Linked DNA regions of Homo sapiens: region 2 is linked to region 1. Evidence: fine-mapped QTL for protein levels in blood plasma. A gene starts in region 1. The other region holds a variant in brackets. All regions are shown on one strand. Distances are between the middles of the regions. Region 1 holds the start of ITIH5 (inter-alpha-trypsin inhibitor heavy chain 5). Region 2 overlaps ITIH5 (inter-alpha-trypsin inhibitor heavy chain 5).

Region 1 (8,000 bases):
AAAATACAAAAATTAGCCAGGCATGGTTGAGGCTGAGGAGGGAGAATTGCTTGACCCCGTGAAGCAGAGGTTGAAGGGAGCTGAGATCACGCAACTCCGTTCCAGCCTGGGAGACAGAGATCTTGTCTCAAAGTTAAAAAAAAAAGAAAAAAGAAAAAAAAGAAATACACCATGATGACTCAGTTTTCTCCTTTCAGAAGCAGATGGAGAAAGTGGGGTCAGGAATGTGCACTGGTTGGCAGATTTGTGTTTGGGGATCACTGTGTTATACTTTCCCAGTTTTCAGCACCCCCACCCCCCCCACCAAATTCCACAGGCAACTGCCCAGACTTGAACCTCAGAATTTTATATTGTTCTTTCCCCACTGTCAAAGCCTTTTCCACCCTTGTTCCCCCTCCTTCCTCTGTCTCCTTAATGTTTTCTCTTCTCCACTTGGCTTTCAAAATCAAATTCATGCAAATATTAATTTCCACGTCCTTCATGAAGCCTTCCAGACCACAAATACAATCACAATCTTGTCCCTTCTCCTCTTAGGAAATCACTACTGAGTTCAAATTTTGTCCATTTTGTTAGCTCCATCTTCATATCTAAATGGTAACTTCTTCAAGGTCACGGAGTCTGTCTAAAACTTGTCATATTACACACAACTAGCACAGGGTAACATAATGGCAGATATACATTTTTTCATTCATTCATCAAGCATACAGCACGTCTACTCTATTCCAGGCCATGTGTCAGAGCCTGAGGATGTCAAAACAAGAATGATAGAATCCTTGACCATGAAGAAATCAGAGTCTAATTTAGGTCTCAAATCTGCAAGCCAATAATTAAAATATGGTAAGTGTTACACTTTGTGAACAGTTGAGTTCAGCAATCACCAATCATATATTAGAAAACTGCATTCCCTATTTCTTCCTTCACAAATCTCTGTGGACAAAACTCAGTGTTTGGTGAAGCAGATGAAAAGTAGGTATAACTAGACTCCTGACACGCTATAACTGGGCTCCCGAGAAATCATCAAGTCAAAGTCAAAAGGAACCCATTTCCTCCCTAGTAGTCCCCTCTAATCAAGAAAAAAAAAAAGCCAAGGTTGTAAAAACCTGTAGCGATTCTACACAGTTGTCAGGGGGCCAAGAGAAACACACAAGGCCATATAAGTAGATAAAAAAGGAGTAGACCAAGGATGGGGAGAAAGAGCTGTCCCAAATAGAACAATGGCCTTACAGAGGCTCAGAAGGGAGGATGAGAGAGGGAGAGGAGGTGGAGACCAAAGAACTGGGTGGTGGCTTAACTCTAACCATAGCTAGATTTAGGAGCTATGGGGTGTCAGGATGTAAAATCAAGGGAGAGGTTTAAAAGAAAACAAACAGGCAGCCTGCTTTCAACTCGTTAATCTCGTTAAGTCATGGTTGTTTTGACCATGATTTTGGGCCCATCTATTGGTAGTCTCCAGTAGGAGACCAGGATAAAGGGATAACTCTCACAAGTGTGATTCGACAATTCTGGAATACTTTGGCCCATCATTCAGTTACTTGAGGGAATGATTTCCTAGAAGTGGCGTGGACAGAGCAGCATCTCTGGCCCAGGAGAAACAGCTCCTGTTCATTCTTGGACTCTGAGTCCCTTGTCGCTGAGCTCTGCCTCTAGATCCTGTCCGTGAACCCCGGGGGCCTTCCCTGTGATTTGTCACTCGTGGCACATGGTCCTGGTGAATGAATTGAGCTAGACATCGTGCAGGGTCTTTTCTAGCTTTGAGATTTTATGTGTTCAGTAACTGGAAATTCAGCTCCTCCTGGAGGTAAAATGAGAAACATGGAATCAAAGGACAAATGTATGTGGGGACACCTTGGCCCTTATTTATAAGGCTGATATAAATCACTGTCTTTGCTTGTTGACAGTCTTGGAAAACTTTCACTAGGTCTTATTTTTATCACACCTACCTAGATTTTAAAGATCATCATAGAGATACACAGGTGTCACATAGAATACTGAACTATTACAGCTTGAAAATAATAGGAAGTTCAGAAACTCTGTCAAGTCATACAGCTAGGTAGCGGTCAAGTTTGCACTATAGCCCAGCCCCACCTCCCTGGCACAGCCTGGCTCTACCATCCACACTCATTCCTCCCATCTACTAATCTCATTCATCAAAAGGTCCTTAAGTGCTAACAATATATTTAGCACAGTTCTAGAAGTTGGGGGAGAGGCTTGTCCTCAAAGAACAGATCCAGTTGGAGAAACTGGCTTTATATTAAACAAACAACACATTAGAACCACAGTCTAGGGTAGAATCAGAGGGTCCTCCCAGATGAAAATAAAACTCACTTTTCTTAACATTAGACTGCTGTAAAACCCAGTTAGTATGAATTTGGGAAAAAAAAAGAGATCAGATATAAAGGCAAAAATAGTTTAATATGGGCCCTTTCAGCATTTCAAGTTAGGGATGGCAGGGAAGGAAAGACGATGGAGTCTCTGTTCTGTTGCAATCATGGGTTGAAATAATGGCCGCTGTATGGTTCCCTATTGCAAATAAACTGGCTTTGTCCAATTCAACTTCTGGTTCACAAATAGTTACTTTCCTCTGGAGGGAAAAATAACCGGCTACAGTTGTTTCTTATTGGTTGCATGCTGACTAGTGGTTAGGCTATTAAAGGATTAACTGCTGATGACAATAATTTTCCTTTCATTTATTTCACAGTAGCAAGGTGTTTGTTTTTAACCTCTCCTAATTCATTAAACAAAGAGCATTTCAACAAGAATAGATATTTTCGAGGATCTCACCACAAACTAACCTACCCACTGCTTTTATTTTTCATGTTTTTTTTTTCTAGTTATGTCCCTCCATATGTATTTCTACCTAATTGCAATCATACTGTTGATACGATTTGGTGATGTGATTTTCTCTTTAGATTACACTGTCAACATTCTCCATGTTTCTGGAGACGTCGCACGATTATTTAATGGCCCCATAGTAACCTGCATGGAATAGTATTCTCTATTCCATGGTCCGAAGTTAGCCCCTTCCCTGTTCTTGGTCCTTAAAGGGTCTGTCACTCACCTCACCTATTTAGATGAAATTATCACAGAGACATAAAAAACATCCTTTGCAACATGAAATAAACAAGTAGCCCCAACTGCAATGTGTATCACCAGATAAAAAAGACGCACTCAGCCTGTAGAAGGCCAGGTGTGGACGGCTGGTGGGTAAGAATTCTTCCAATGGCAGGATGGAAGTATCACCAATAGTTTGTAACTAAGATACATACTGGCACTCACTTACATGATTAATAACCAGAAACTCAGAAATACTACACGCTACCAAGATACTTCCCTCGTCTCCTCTGTTTCCTTAGAACATAAAGGCTGGCAGCCTTGCTAGTCCCTCCTGCGCTAGACTGCAGGTAGTATCCTTTGTCCTGCCTATTAAGCGTCCCTGGCCAATGCAGAGGGGACGATCTGCCGGCTTCAGGCTGGCAGGTGCGGGGTGGGCTGTGTGCTGAGGACCAGGCTGGCCTTCTCGCGTCCTCTGGCGACAGAAATTAAGCAAGTCCGCAAAGAAGCATATTGCACCTTGAGGGAGAGGAAGAAAGAGTTGCGGGGGCGCGTGGGGTAGGGCCCGGGAGGCAGTGGGTGTTGGCAAGAAACGGAGTAGGAGGCTCTACAGAGGAGACTGGTCCTTGGTTAAGTGTCACAGCCGCAGGATGGGAGGGTGTGGGAGGGGTCCGTGGGGCCAACACAGGTGGCCCCTGCTGTGCGCGGCGAGGCAGGCTTGGAATGCCTTCTCCCCGAACAGAGCTAGCCCAGCACTGGGGGCTGGAGGCGCGGCTCTGGTGGGACTGAGGCCGGGAAGCGGCGCCGGGCGGGGTGGGGACTGGGGAGGAGGCGGGGCTGGTGTGGGGGCCACAGGGAGGCGGGCCGGGTTTAAGGGGGTGGCTGTAGGTGGGGTCTGGGAAGTTGGCCTCGGTGGGGACAGGGACAGGAGAGGTGGGGCCGGGACTGGGGAGGTGGGGGGAAATGGGGGCGTGGAGAAACGGAGCTTGGGGTTGGGGACCTGGGGAAGCTGGGTCCTGACTGGGGACAGGGAGGCGAGGCCGGGCTTGGGGGGTGTCCAGGGAGGCAGGGTGTGGGAAGGTCTGGGGCGGGGAAGTGGGGTCTGGGCTGGGGTGGGAGAGTTGGAGTCCAGAAGGGGACCGCGGGGTGGAAGGGGTCCGGGCTGGGACCGGGGTAGGCGGAGTCCAGGAGGGGACGCAGGGTGGGCGGGGTCCGGGCTGGGTCCGTGGGGTGGGCGGGGTCCGGGCTGGGACGCGGGGTGGGCGGGGTCCGGGCTGGGTCCGTGGGGTGGGCGGGGTCCGGGCTGGGTCCGTGGGGTGGGCGGAGTCCAGGAGGGGACCGCAGGGTGGGCGGGGTCCGGGCTGGGTCCGTGGGGTGGGCGGGGTCCGGGCTGGGTCCGTGGGGTGGGCGGGGTCCGGGCTGGGACCGCGGGGTGGGCGGGGTCCGGGCTGGGTCCGTGGGGTGGGCGGGGTCCGGGCTGGGACCGCGGGGTGGGCGGCCCCGAGAGCGTCCCGCAGTGGCTGGAGCCCTGGGCGCTGCAAAGCGTGTCCCGCCGGGTCCCCGAGCGTCCCGCGCCCTCGCCCCGCCATGCTCCTGCTGCTGGGGCTGTGCCTGGGGCTGTCCCTGTGTGTGGGGTCGCAGGAAGAGGCGCAGAGCTGGGGCCACTCTTCGGAGCAGGTAAGTGGAGCCGAGGGGAGCCGGGTCCCGGGCGCGGCCGCCCCCTTCCCTCCGCCGGCCCGGCCGCGGAGCTTCTGCCCGGGCCCCCTTCGACCGTCTCCCAGGCCCCCACCAGAGGCCCAGGGGTCCCTCTCTGTGGGTCACTCGTGCGTCACCTCTGTGTGAGCCGCGGTGCCTGATCTGGCCTGAGGCTTCCTGCAGAACTGTGCCCGGGACTTGTCCTGCGGAGCCGAGTTTTTCTTCTTGGCTCCTGTTGATTGCGCAGATTTCTGTTCGTCGTTGTTAATTTCTGAGGTAGCTCCAAAAGTTATTATAATTACAAGGTTTTTTCCTTATCACGCGTGGGGGGCAGTCTGCTGTTATCATCATTCCCAGTTGATCCAGGGAGAAAGGCAATATGAGAGGAGTTCTAGACTCCTGGGAGCCTCAGCTTTTCCCACCTGAAAACCGGGAGAACACGACTTTCCCATTTAGCGACTACCTACCGGTGGTTTAGCATTTAAAGGTGGCACCGAGAGCCAAAGCGTCTGAGTTCCTCGAGTTGCTGGTCTGTGCGTTTGTCAGGATTTGTGTTTCAAATGTCTTAACCTCGCAGGCGAATAAAACCTGCAAATATGAAATGTCAATAAAATGATGAATAGAGCATTTTTGTCTTTAAAAAGTATGAAGCGGGTTCACACAAATAGCATTGAGAGCTAATGTGCAACATGGCCCTGTCACAAAGTAGAAGTGCTTTCACACACATGCCATTTAAATATTTAAGCCGTTTAGCTTCCAGCGTGTTTGTGCACGGTGGGAGGAAGATACAAGTAGGCGGACCTTTTCTCCCTTTTCCAGCCCCTGTTTTGAAGAGCAGTTTTGAAGCCCAACTGCCTAAATATGAAGACAGTTATCTTCATGTTCTCTGTCCTGTGAATGTGCTTAACAGTAAAGTGGTAGTAATGATACTTCCTTCTAGGGGGGGAGTAGCTAATAAAATCCCAGGAGGCATCGTAGTGATGTTGGAAAAGTGCAGGCTTTGGATGCAGAGACAGGCTGGGCTTTAGTTGTGTGTTCCGGGCAAGCCCTTTAATCTCTCAGAGCCTTCATGTCCTCGTTGGTCAGGGCAGGGAATGCGGCTCTTTTTGAGCAAACTTGCAAGGACTCAGCTAATTTGTGTTAAGCACCTGGTATACAGTGGACGCTCAATAACTGGGAGATGTTTTAGTAGATGGCTGAAGGCATGGGCTTGGTACCAGGATGTCTGGGACCACTTGATTCTTGATTCTGTCACTTATCAGCTCTGGGACCCTGATCAAGTGCCTTTCGGCCTTATATTCCTCTTCTGTGAAATGTGGAGAAATGATAGGGTTGTGAGGACTGAATGCATTATGACACCCAAGTGCTTAAAACACTGTCAGCACTTAATGCTGGCCATGGTCTTAGACTCATGCTGCTGACATGCTGAGTGAAGGAATTTAGGGTAAAGATCTTGAAACTTTTTTGGGGGTGTGGAGACAGGACAGTGTGGGATGGACTGAAACAAAGATTCTGTGTCTGAACTAGGAAGGCTGTTTAAACTCTAGCATATACCAAGTTCAAGTAGGCTTCACAGTCTATGGACTTGCTGTCATAAAAAAACATGGCTTGACCTCTTTTAGTGATTTCATGCTGTCTTCAACCCAGCACAATATTTATTTATCTTGAAAATGACTAAATCAGGAAAAAAAATCCAAGGTATAAAGTTCTATGAACTTGCAATTTTACCTTTTATCCCTAATCCGTTCTTTTTTATATTTAGTTTTTGTGATATAGGGTTTGAGAGCATAGGCTTTAGCACCAGAATTCTGGGTTCAAATCTTGGCTCTGCACTTACTGAGGAGTTACTTAACGTTTGTGAGCCTCTATCTCTGTATGGGGATGATGCAATTACTTAGGATTTTGAAAAGTGAAACAATTAATATACTTAAATCTTAGAACAGAACCTGGGAATGTAATGAGCACTCTATTCTCAATCATTATGGTCTTTAAAATTGTATGTAAACTTAATTTGAAAAATGTAAGTCTATGCAAATCTTATGCAAATTTTAATATAGCTGAATATGACTATTAACTTGCATTGCAGTTATTTGTCATTCACCTGTAATTGGAAATATACCAGTAACACCTTAGATTCAAGTTCCTTCACCTCTCACCCTTCACCCCATCTGTAGACAGTGGGTACTCAGTAACCCATAGTGGAATGACTCCTAAAAGCAGTGGTTTTCACCCTTGGGGTGGAAAAAGTCACTTGGGGTGTTCATTAAACATTCAGCTTCCTGAGTTCCACTTCCATTGGTTTAGATCCATTGGGTTTGGGATGGGGCGCAGATGATTCTGATGCAGGTGGTCCATGGAACACATTTTAGTTTTTTTTTTTTTTTTGAGACGGAATCTCGCTGTGTCGCCCAGGCTGGAGTGCAGTGGCAGGCTCTCTGCTCTCTGCAACCTCTGGCTCCTGGGTTCAAGTGATTCTCATGCCTCAGCCTCCCAAGCAGATGGGATTACAGGTGCACTCCACCATGCCTGGCTAATTTTTGTATTTTTAATAGAGACAAAAATACATCACGTTGGCCAGGCTGGTCTCAAACTCCTGAGCTCAAGTGATCCACCTGCCCTGGCCTCCCAAAGTGCTGGGATTACAGGCATAAGCCACTGTGCCTAGCCGCACACTTTGAATAGTAGTATTTTTAAAGGATATTTTGGGAAATTAGTATTTAAAAGAAAATCCCTTGTATAAAAACTGTCTGCTACAGACTTATCTGTTTTGTTAGCTTAAATTTATATGGTGTCTTTAAAGATAGAGTTATATTCCCATTATTATCAAAGCAGTTTTAGATTGACAAAATAGTAAAAGCCACCAGTTATTGAGTATCTGTAATGTCCCAATGTCTCAGGGAGTTTGCTAGGAGCTTTATGTGAAAATAATAAGAGGCAATAATGTATTCTGGTTGAGTACTCCATGTGGTGCCGGACTGCCTGGGCTCATATCTGGACCCCATCACTTACTGCCTGTGTGTACCTGGGCAAGTCACTTAACCTCTCTGGGTCTCAGTTTCATCATCTGCAATATAGAGTTGTTAATAATTCCTACTACATAGGCAGGGGTGGATCTAGGCTTTGGGAGGAGAGTAAAGTTTATACAATTTGCAGGACCCTCTTGAAGGAAAAAAGTATCAAATTATAACTACAAAATTAGGTGCTAAAATGACTATTTATTTAGAAAGATAAAGAAAGCACAACAAATTACACAT
Region 2 (8,000 bases), 87 kb after region 1:
GACTCCAAGCCTTAGAAACCCTGTGGGTTTCCTTTATTTTTCTTGAACTGCATTGCCCTAGCCTCTGCAGGTGAACAGCAGATCAGCCTGCTTCTCTCTAAGACGTGTAGCATCAGGATTGTGAGCATGGATTTGGAAGCCAGACTGCCTGGGTTTGAATCCAGCTCCATCTTCTCTGTGCCTCAGTTTCCTCATCTGTAGAATGAAGATAACAATGGAATCGTTACCAGGATGGAGTGAGTTAAAGCATTTCAAGTGGTTAGAATGGTCCTGGCACATAGGAAGTCCTCTTTAAGCATCAGATGTGGCCATTATTTTCACCCACTCAGGTAACCCCTCTCGCTGGTGCTTGTGAGTCCTTTGATGACAGCTCCTGTCTGTTTTCAGTGGGAAGGAGATGCCCCAGTTGCTGTGGGCTTGATACCAATCCCTGCAGGGCCTCTGGTGGCTGTGTGCCATCGGGAAAGCTAATCCGTCCCTCTGCCTGTGCTCTCCTTGGCTTTAAAGTGGAGTGAGAGATTTGGCACCATTGCTGAATAGAGACAAGAGAAAAAAATGCCAGTTCATCCTTGTTCACACATCCAGGGGCACTAAGAAATTAGACTGGACCTTAAGAAAGGCAAATTAGGCCAGGCGCAGTGGCTCATACCTATAACCCTGGCACTTTGGGAGGCCAAGGCGGGTGGATTGCCTGAGCTCGGGAGCTCGAGACCAGCCTGGGCAACATGGTGAAACCCCATCTCTACTAAAATACAAAAAAATCAGCTGGGCGTGGTAGCTTGCGCCTGTAGTCCCAGCTACTGGGGAGGCTGAGGCAGGAGAATTGCATGAACCTGGGAGGCGGAGGTTGTAGTGAGCCGAGATCGCACCACTGCACTCCAGCCCCGGTGACAGAGTGAAATTCTGTTTCAAAAACAAACAAACAAAAGAAAGGCAAATTAGTGATTCCAATAAAATGTAAAATAACTTTCTTTCCATTTGGGCTCTGCATCTTAGCAAGAATTATGAACATTTGGTCATGGACATAGCCTTATCTACTTTTTTAGCTAGAAAATCTGGAGGATGTTAAGCCGTGGGGGAGATGATCTGGTTCTCTCAGATGCGGTACATTTTAATTTTAATTTTTAATTTTTGTGGGTCCAGAGTAGGTATATGTGTTTATGGGGTATATGAGGTATTTTGATACAGGCATACATTGTGTGATAATTACATCAGATAAATGAGATATCCATCACCTCAAGCATTTGTCCTTTGTTACAAACAATCCAATTATACTCAGTTATTTTTAAGTGTATCATGAAATTATTATTGAATATAATCACCCTGTTGCACTACCAAGTACTAGATCGTCTTCATTCTTTCTAACTTCTTTTTGTACCCATTAACTATCCCTACTTCTGCCCCACCCCCCACTACCCTGCCCAGCCTCTGGAAACCATCCTTCTACTCTTTATCTCCATAAGTTCAATCGTTTTAATTTTTAGCTGCCACAAATAAGCGAGAACATGGGAAGATGGTCTTTCTGTGCCTGGCTTAATTCACTGAATATAATGAGCTCCAGTTCCATCCATCTTGTTGCAGATGACAAGATCTCATTCTTTTTTGTGGCTGAATAGTGCCCCATGGTATATATGTACCACAAATGTGGTAAAATTTGCAGGTAGAGAAAAGTCACTCCAGTCAGGATGATGGATGGTGGTGATGGTCATCAAACTCTAAATTTACTACAAATCATGAATTGGACACTTAGAATGGGTGATCTTTTGGTATGTAGATTTTATCTTAAGCCATTTTAAAAAAAAAACAAAGGAAATAGGTGTTCACACTACAGTAAGGTCTCTGCTTTACTTGGTAATGGTGGGATGTTGGTAGCTTAGTCCAGTGGAATTCTTAGCTAACCCAGAAACCTCACTGTAGCTGGGGTTTCAACCTCAACCACCCAACCACCTGTCTCCCCATCCACCAAACAAATACTTGTTCAGCTCCTATCAAAGACACAGGCCCCAACTTTATTTATTTATTTTGCTCCCAAACTTAAATTGTCTGATTTATTTTAATCATAAAGTAGTAAATTTAAGAATACATGGGGCCAGGTGCTGTGGCCCCTGCCAGTAATCCCAGCACTTTGGAGGCCGAGGCGGGCAGATCACAAGGTCAGGAAATCAAGACCAGCCTGGCCAACATGGTGAAACCCGTCTCTACTAAAAAAGTACAAAAATTAGCCAGGCATGGTGGCGTGTGCCTGTAATCCCAGCTACTCGGGAGGCTGAGGCAGGAGAATTGCTTGAACACAGGAGGCAGAGGTTGCAGTGAGCCAAGATCACGCCACTGCATTCCACCTTGGGCGAAAGAGCATGACTATATCTCAAAAAAAAAAAAAAAAAAAAAAATACATGGGTGGCCGGGCATGGTGGCTCATGCCTGTAGTCCCAGCACTTTGGGAGGTTGAGGTGGGAGAACTGCTTGAGCCCAGGAGTTCGAGACCAGCCTGGGCAACATAGTGAGACCCTGTCTCTAAAAAAAAAAAAAAAAAAAAAAAGAAGGAAAAGAAAAGAAAACATGGGAACATTCTTTTTAAAGGAAGCAGTAACCTGTAGTGTAACATACATGCAGAAAAATGTACATGTAGTAAGTGTACAACTTGATATGTTTTCATAAACTGAACAGAACCTGGACCCAGATCAAGAAACAGAACATTTAGAACTCCAGAAGCCTGCTCATGTTCTCACACCATTTTTTCCATGGAAGTATCTATTCTAAAACATTTGAGGAATAAAGAAAATCATCAAAAGAAAAAAAGGAGAGAAAAACCTCCTGCTGTCCACAGATGCCTGCTAATGTCATTGGTGTTTATTGTTCCATCATTTCTCAGAGTTGAGATTTGTTTTCTGTTTCGTATGGTTTTTCTAAGCCACATATTCCTGATAAAATTTTTCTTCCCTTTCGCCCCCAACTTTATTTTATTTATTCATTTATTTATTTTATTTTTATTTTTTCTGTTGAGACCGCGTCTCACTCTGTTTCCCAGGCTGGAGTGCAATGGCACGATCTTGGCTCACTGCAACTTCCGTCTTCTGGGTTCAAGTGATTTTCTGACCTTAGCCATCCGAGTAGCTGGGATTACAGGCATGTACCACCATGCCCGGCTAATTTTTGTATTTTTGGTAGAGACAGGGTTTTGCCATGTTAGCGAGGCTGGTCTCGAACTCCTGACCTCAGGTGATCCACCCACCTTGGCCTCCCAGAGTGCTGGGATTACAGGCATGAGCCACCGTGCCTGGCTGGCCTCCAACTTTAATCAGAGCTGTTGCTGACAAGGGCCTCTGAAGGAAAAAGGGTGGCCAGGAGGAGAAATATTTCATGGCTCCTTTCTCTGTGGGGTTCTGGCAAGCAGAGGTGATCTGAAGGGACAGGAAGCAAAGAAAGGAGAGACGATGAAGGCAACAAATTCATTCTTTCATCAGCTCCACCTAGCCCTAGACAACACTGGAAGGCATCTGAGATGTCAGCAGCTACCCTCCTCCTCTTCGTTCCATGCCCCTCCTCCCCTCTGCGGCTCTTTCTCCCTCCACATTCCTGCTGTCTTCTATGCTCAACACCTTCCTGCTCTTTTCAAAGCCATTCTCAGAAGAGGGCACAGAAGCCATTGAAGCTCAGGTAAGCTAAGGCGTCGCCACATGCCTTCTGGAGAAGGTTTGTTACAGTGGGATAATCCCCATTCACTTATATGCATTTAGTAAATGCACTTGCTTTTAGCAAGTTTCTGGATGGCCCCTTAACACCTCACTCCTGTGAGCATTTGGGTGGTTGAGCGTGAACTGCAGCTATGAAAGTGCATTCAGGCTGGGCATGGTGGCTCATGCCTGTGATTCCAGCACTTTGGGAGGCCAAGGTGGGCGGATTACTTGAGGTCAGGAGTTTGAGACCAGCCTGGCCAACATGGTCAATCCCATCTCTACTAAAAATACAAAAATTAGCCAGATGTGGTGGTGTGCACCTGTAATCCCAGCTACTCGGGAGGCTGAGGCGGGAGAATCGCTTGAACCTGGGAGGCGGAGGTTGCAGTGAGTGCAGATTGCGCCATTGCACTCCAGCCTGGGTGACAGAGCAAGACTCCGTCTCAAAAAAAAGAAAGTGCAATCAGAGTGCGGAGGTGAGTGCAGAGGCTTGAGCTGTTCCGTGTTGGTGTCCTGCAGGCACAGACATCAACGGGGCCCTGCAGAGGGCCATCAGGCTCCTCAACAAGTACGTGGCCCACAGTGGCATTGGAGACCGGAGCGTGTCCCTCATCGTCTTCCTGACGGATGGGAAGCCCACGGTCGGGGAGACGCACACCCTCAAGATCCTC[A/C]ACAACACCCGAGAGGCCGCCCGAGGCCAAGTCTGCATCTTCACCATTGGCATCGGCAACGACGTGGACTTCAGGCTGCTGGAGAAACTGTCGCTGGAGAACTGTGGCCTCACACGGCGCGTGCACGAGGAGGAGGACGCAGGCTCGCAGCTCATCGGGTCTGTGGTCTGTCTTCGTAGGCATGAGAGGCTGTTTGAGGGGCTGAGGGGTGGCTGCGGTGGGAATTCAGAGAGGAGTGTGTTGCTGCACCCCAGCCTTGCATCTGCTGACAACGATCATAGCTCATTGCAATGGGAGGTGTCACCATGTGTTTTGAAACTAGGCAGATCAGAGTTCGAATTCTGATCCTCCTTTATGACTTTAGGCAAGATTTTTTTTTTTTTTCTTGTGATGGAGTTTCGCTCTTGTTGCCCAGGCTGCAATGCAATGGCGTGATCTCAGCTCACTGCAACCTCTGCTTCCTGGGTTCAAGCAATTCTCTTGCCTCAGCCTCCTGAGTAGCTGGGACTACAGTCACACACCACCACGCCTGGCTAATTTTGTATTTTTAGTAGAGACAAGGTTTCTCCATGTTGGTCAGGCTGGTCTCGAACTCCTGACCTCAGGTGATCTGCCCGCCTTGGCCTCCCAAAGTACTGGGATTATGGGCGTGAGCCACCACACCCGGCCCTAAGCAAGATTTTAAGACAGTCTGTACCTCCGTTTTCTCATCTGTAAAATGAGGATTATGGTTGGTTGCAGAATTTAATGAGAAAATCGCTATATAAAAACACTATGTATAGCACTGGCACAGTGGCCATCCCATATTAAGTATTTAATGAGCTCTCATAGTTCATTGACATCCTGATATTTCAAAGCACTTTCTAGTAAGTTTACTTTTATTCTACCCTGTGAGCAAGTAGCAGAGTACTGTTATGTTCATTTTGAGTACTAGTTAAAAGATACTTTTATTTGGAAGCAAAACCATCAGATAAAACTGTTAAATAATCAGATTATTTTGAGGTGGAGAATAAATGAGATCTTTTAAATGAGAGATGGAGAAAACTCAGATCTTTTAAAACAGAAATAGCTTCCCTCCGATATTATGTTGCCACGCATCAGTCTGCTCCTTTGCTGTTCATTGAGTGAAGTGCCAGCTCCCAGTTCAGCGTGAGGTGCTTTAATCTGCATCGTGGCATATGTGGTATCTACTTAAAAGCAAAGGGGAGGTTTGGGTAGATTTATAGGTGTTTAATAGCCATAGTCAAAGCACATTTATTAATGATAAATGGAAATGGAGACACCTAAGGTGTGCAGTAAAGACAGGTCCTCGGTTTGGGATTCGCCACCGTTTCCTCCCACGCATTTTAATGAAAGATTTAAATGAAAACACAGATTTGCTTTCCACATTTTAAAAATTATTCAAAACTAGAGTCAAAGGGGAGAATCTGATACACTGGATAACAGAATTGAAATTCAATAAGGCATTCAGAAGCAAAAGCAGTTATGCTGTAACAAGTCAGCTGCACTGCCATCCCACTGAAACTATGATCGATACCTGGCATTTATGAGAACTTATGATACACCAGGAACTTCGATGTGCATCATCCCAGATGATCCTCACAGAAATCCTAGGAGGTAGGTGTATTAGGGTAAAGGCTAAGCTGCAATACAGAGATGATGAAAGGCAAAGGCTGAAATAAGATAGCCATTTCCTTCCCTCTCCTGTAATGGTAACAGGCTAGATCCTGCTCCCAGAAGTCATTCAGGGACCCAAGCTCCTTCTGTTTTATTGCTCTGCTTCCCTCAGGTGTTGTCCTTAATGCTACAGGATTGAAATTCAGTCACTATCACTCTTGTTTTCTAGCCGCAAAAAGGGAGAGAGAAAAGAAAGCCAGCATGGATTGTAAGCAAATATTGAGAAGTTGCACATCTCACTGCTACCCATATTCCATTGGGAGGACATAGTCACATAGCCATTTGTGGCCTCGATGGAGGCTGGGAAATGTAGTTTGTAGCTGGATGGCCGGAGCTCAATTCTCATGAAAGAAGGGGAAAATGGACTTTCAGGGACAGCTAGTAGGTGACCAAAGAAGTACTGTTTACATCCTGATTTTCTAGATAAGGAAACTCAAGTTCAGAGAGGTTAAGTCACATGTCCCAAGACACACAGCAAGGAAGCAACAGAGATGGAAGTCTAACTCCACAGCCTATGGTTTCTAGGCCTTTTGAAAGGGAATTTTAATTGTCTCCTTACTTAGCAAGAAGCGACCATGCAACTTAACTACAAGGAAAGCAAATGCAAGCAAATGTTATACGCACAAACTCACGAAAGTCAGGTTTCTGAAGTAGAATGCGCTGCTTAAAGCACATCTGGAATTTGTATTTGGTTCTAAGAAAAAGGTTTTTAAGAGTCCCTTTAAGAAACGTAAGTGTACACAAAGGAAATTTACCAAGACTGGTGAGGGAATCTTGAAATTGTATCACAGGAAGAATAGTTCATGAAACTGGGGATTGACTGGGCTTAAAGGAATGCACAGCATTGTTTTTTAAGCATCCAAATGTCTGTTGAAATGGATTACACTAATTCGATATTGTTCCAGAGGCAAAACTGAAACCAGTGGGTGGAAATTTCAGGGAGGAAGATTTTAATCTACTATAAGCAGGTTTTTTCTCATCATGAGAGTGGTTGAAAAACAGCTCAGAAGCCGCGTGAGAGAATGCATTCCCTCTCACCAATGGTGTTCAACCTGCTGCCTAGTGATCTCCTGGCAGAAATATTGTGTGGGGTGCCATGTTGGACTCAATTGCTTCTAAAATCAGATGCATCCCCCTGAGAGTCTGCAGTTTCCTTTAGGACTGTCCTGCCTGCTGTCAGAGCAGGGCCCTGATCTCCCTCCCTCCCTGTGCTTCCACTGCAGGTTCTACGATGAAATCAGGACCCCGCTCCTCTCTGACATCCGCATCGATTATCCCCCCAGCTCAGTGGTGCAGGCCACCAAGACCCTGTTCCCCAACTACTTCAACGGCTCGGAGATCATCATTGCGGGGAAGCTGGTGGACAGGAAGCTGGATCACCTGCACGTGGAGGTCACCGCCAGCAACAGTAAGAAATTCATCATCCTGAAGACAGATGTGCCTGTGCGGCCTCAGAAGGCAGGGAAAGATGTCACAGGAAGCCCCAGGCCTGGAGGCGATGGAGAGGGGGACACCAACCACATCGAGCGTCTCTGGAGCTACCTCACCACAAAGGAGCTGCTGAGCTCCTGGCTGCAAAGTGACGATGAACCGGAGAAGGAGCGGCTGCGGCAGCGGGCCCAGGCCCTGGCTGTGAGCTACCGCTTCCTCACTCCCTTCACCTCCATGAAGCTGAGGGGGCCGGTCCCACGCATGGATGGCCTGGAGGAGGCCCACGGCATGTCGGCTGCCATGGGACCCGAACCGGTGGTGCAGAGCGTGCGAGGAGCTGGCACGCAGCCAGGTACGAGGCACCTGTGCCAGCCAGGTGTGGGGGACGCGGGCCTGAGATACCACTCACCTCCTCCACAGGAAGCCCCAGCAGGAAGCTGTGTTATTCCATCTTGCTATAATACTTATAAACAATAACCCAGACCGGGTATAGTAGCTCACACCTGTAATCCCAGCACTTTGGGAGGCTGAGGTGGGATCCCTT

The links. PIP is the chance, under the fine-mapping model, that this variant and not a neighbour inherited with it causes the effect. Protein levels are from the aptamer-based SomaScan assay of Sun 2018.
Region 2: its variant is fine-mapped to the plasma level of the ITIH5 protein (Sun 2018, PIP 0.95). The variant lies in the coding sequence of ITIH5. If it changes the protein, the assay may bind it differently, which can mimic a change of level.

Annotation. Positions count from the first base shown.
Region 1 is chr10:7,663,531-7,671,530 of GRCh38, reverse strand. ITIH5 (inter-alpha-trypsin inhibitor heavy chain 5) reads left to right here and starts at 4,565. Exons shown (of 14, transcript NM_030569.7): 1 at 4,565-4,728. The coding sequence starts at 4,639.
Region 2 is chr10:7,576,261-7,584,260 of GRCh38, reverse strand. ITIH5 (inter-alpha-trypsin inhibitor heavy chain 5) reads left to right here. Exons shown (of 14, transcript NM_030569.7): 9 at 4,197-4,506; 10 at 7,249-7,808. Among named protein-coding and RNA genes, the nearest start is that of ITIH5, 87 kb to the left of the region's middle. The variant A/C (reference allele first, on the strand shown) is at 4,349.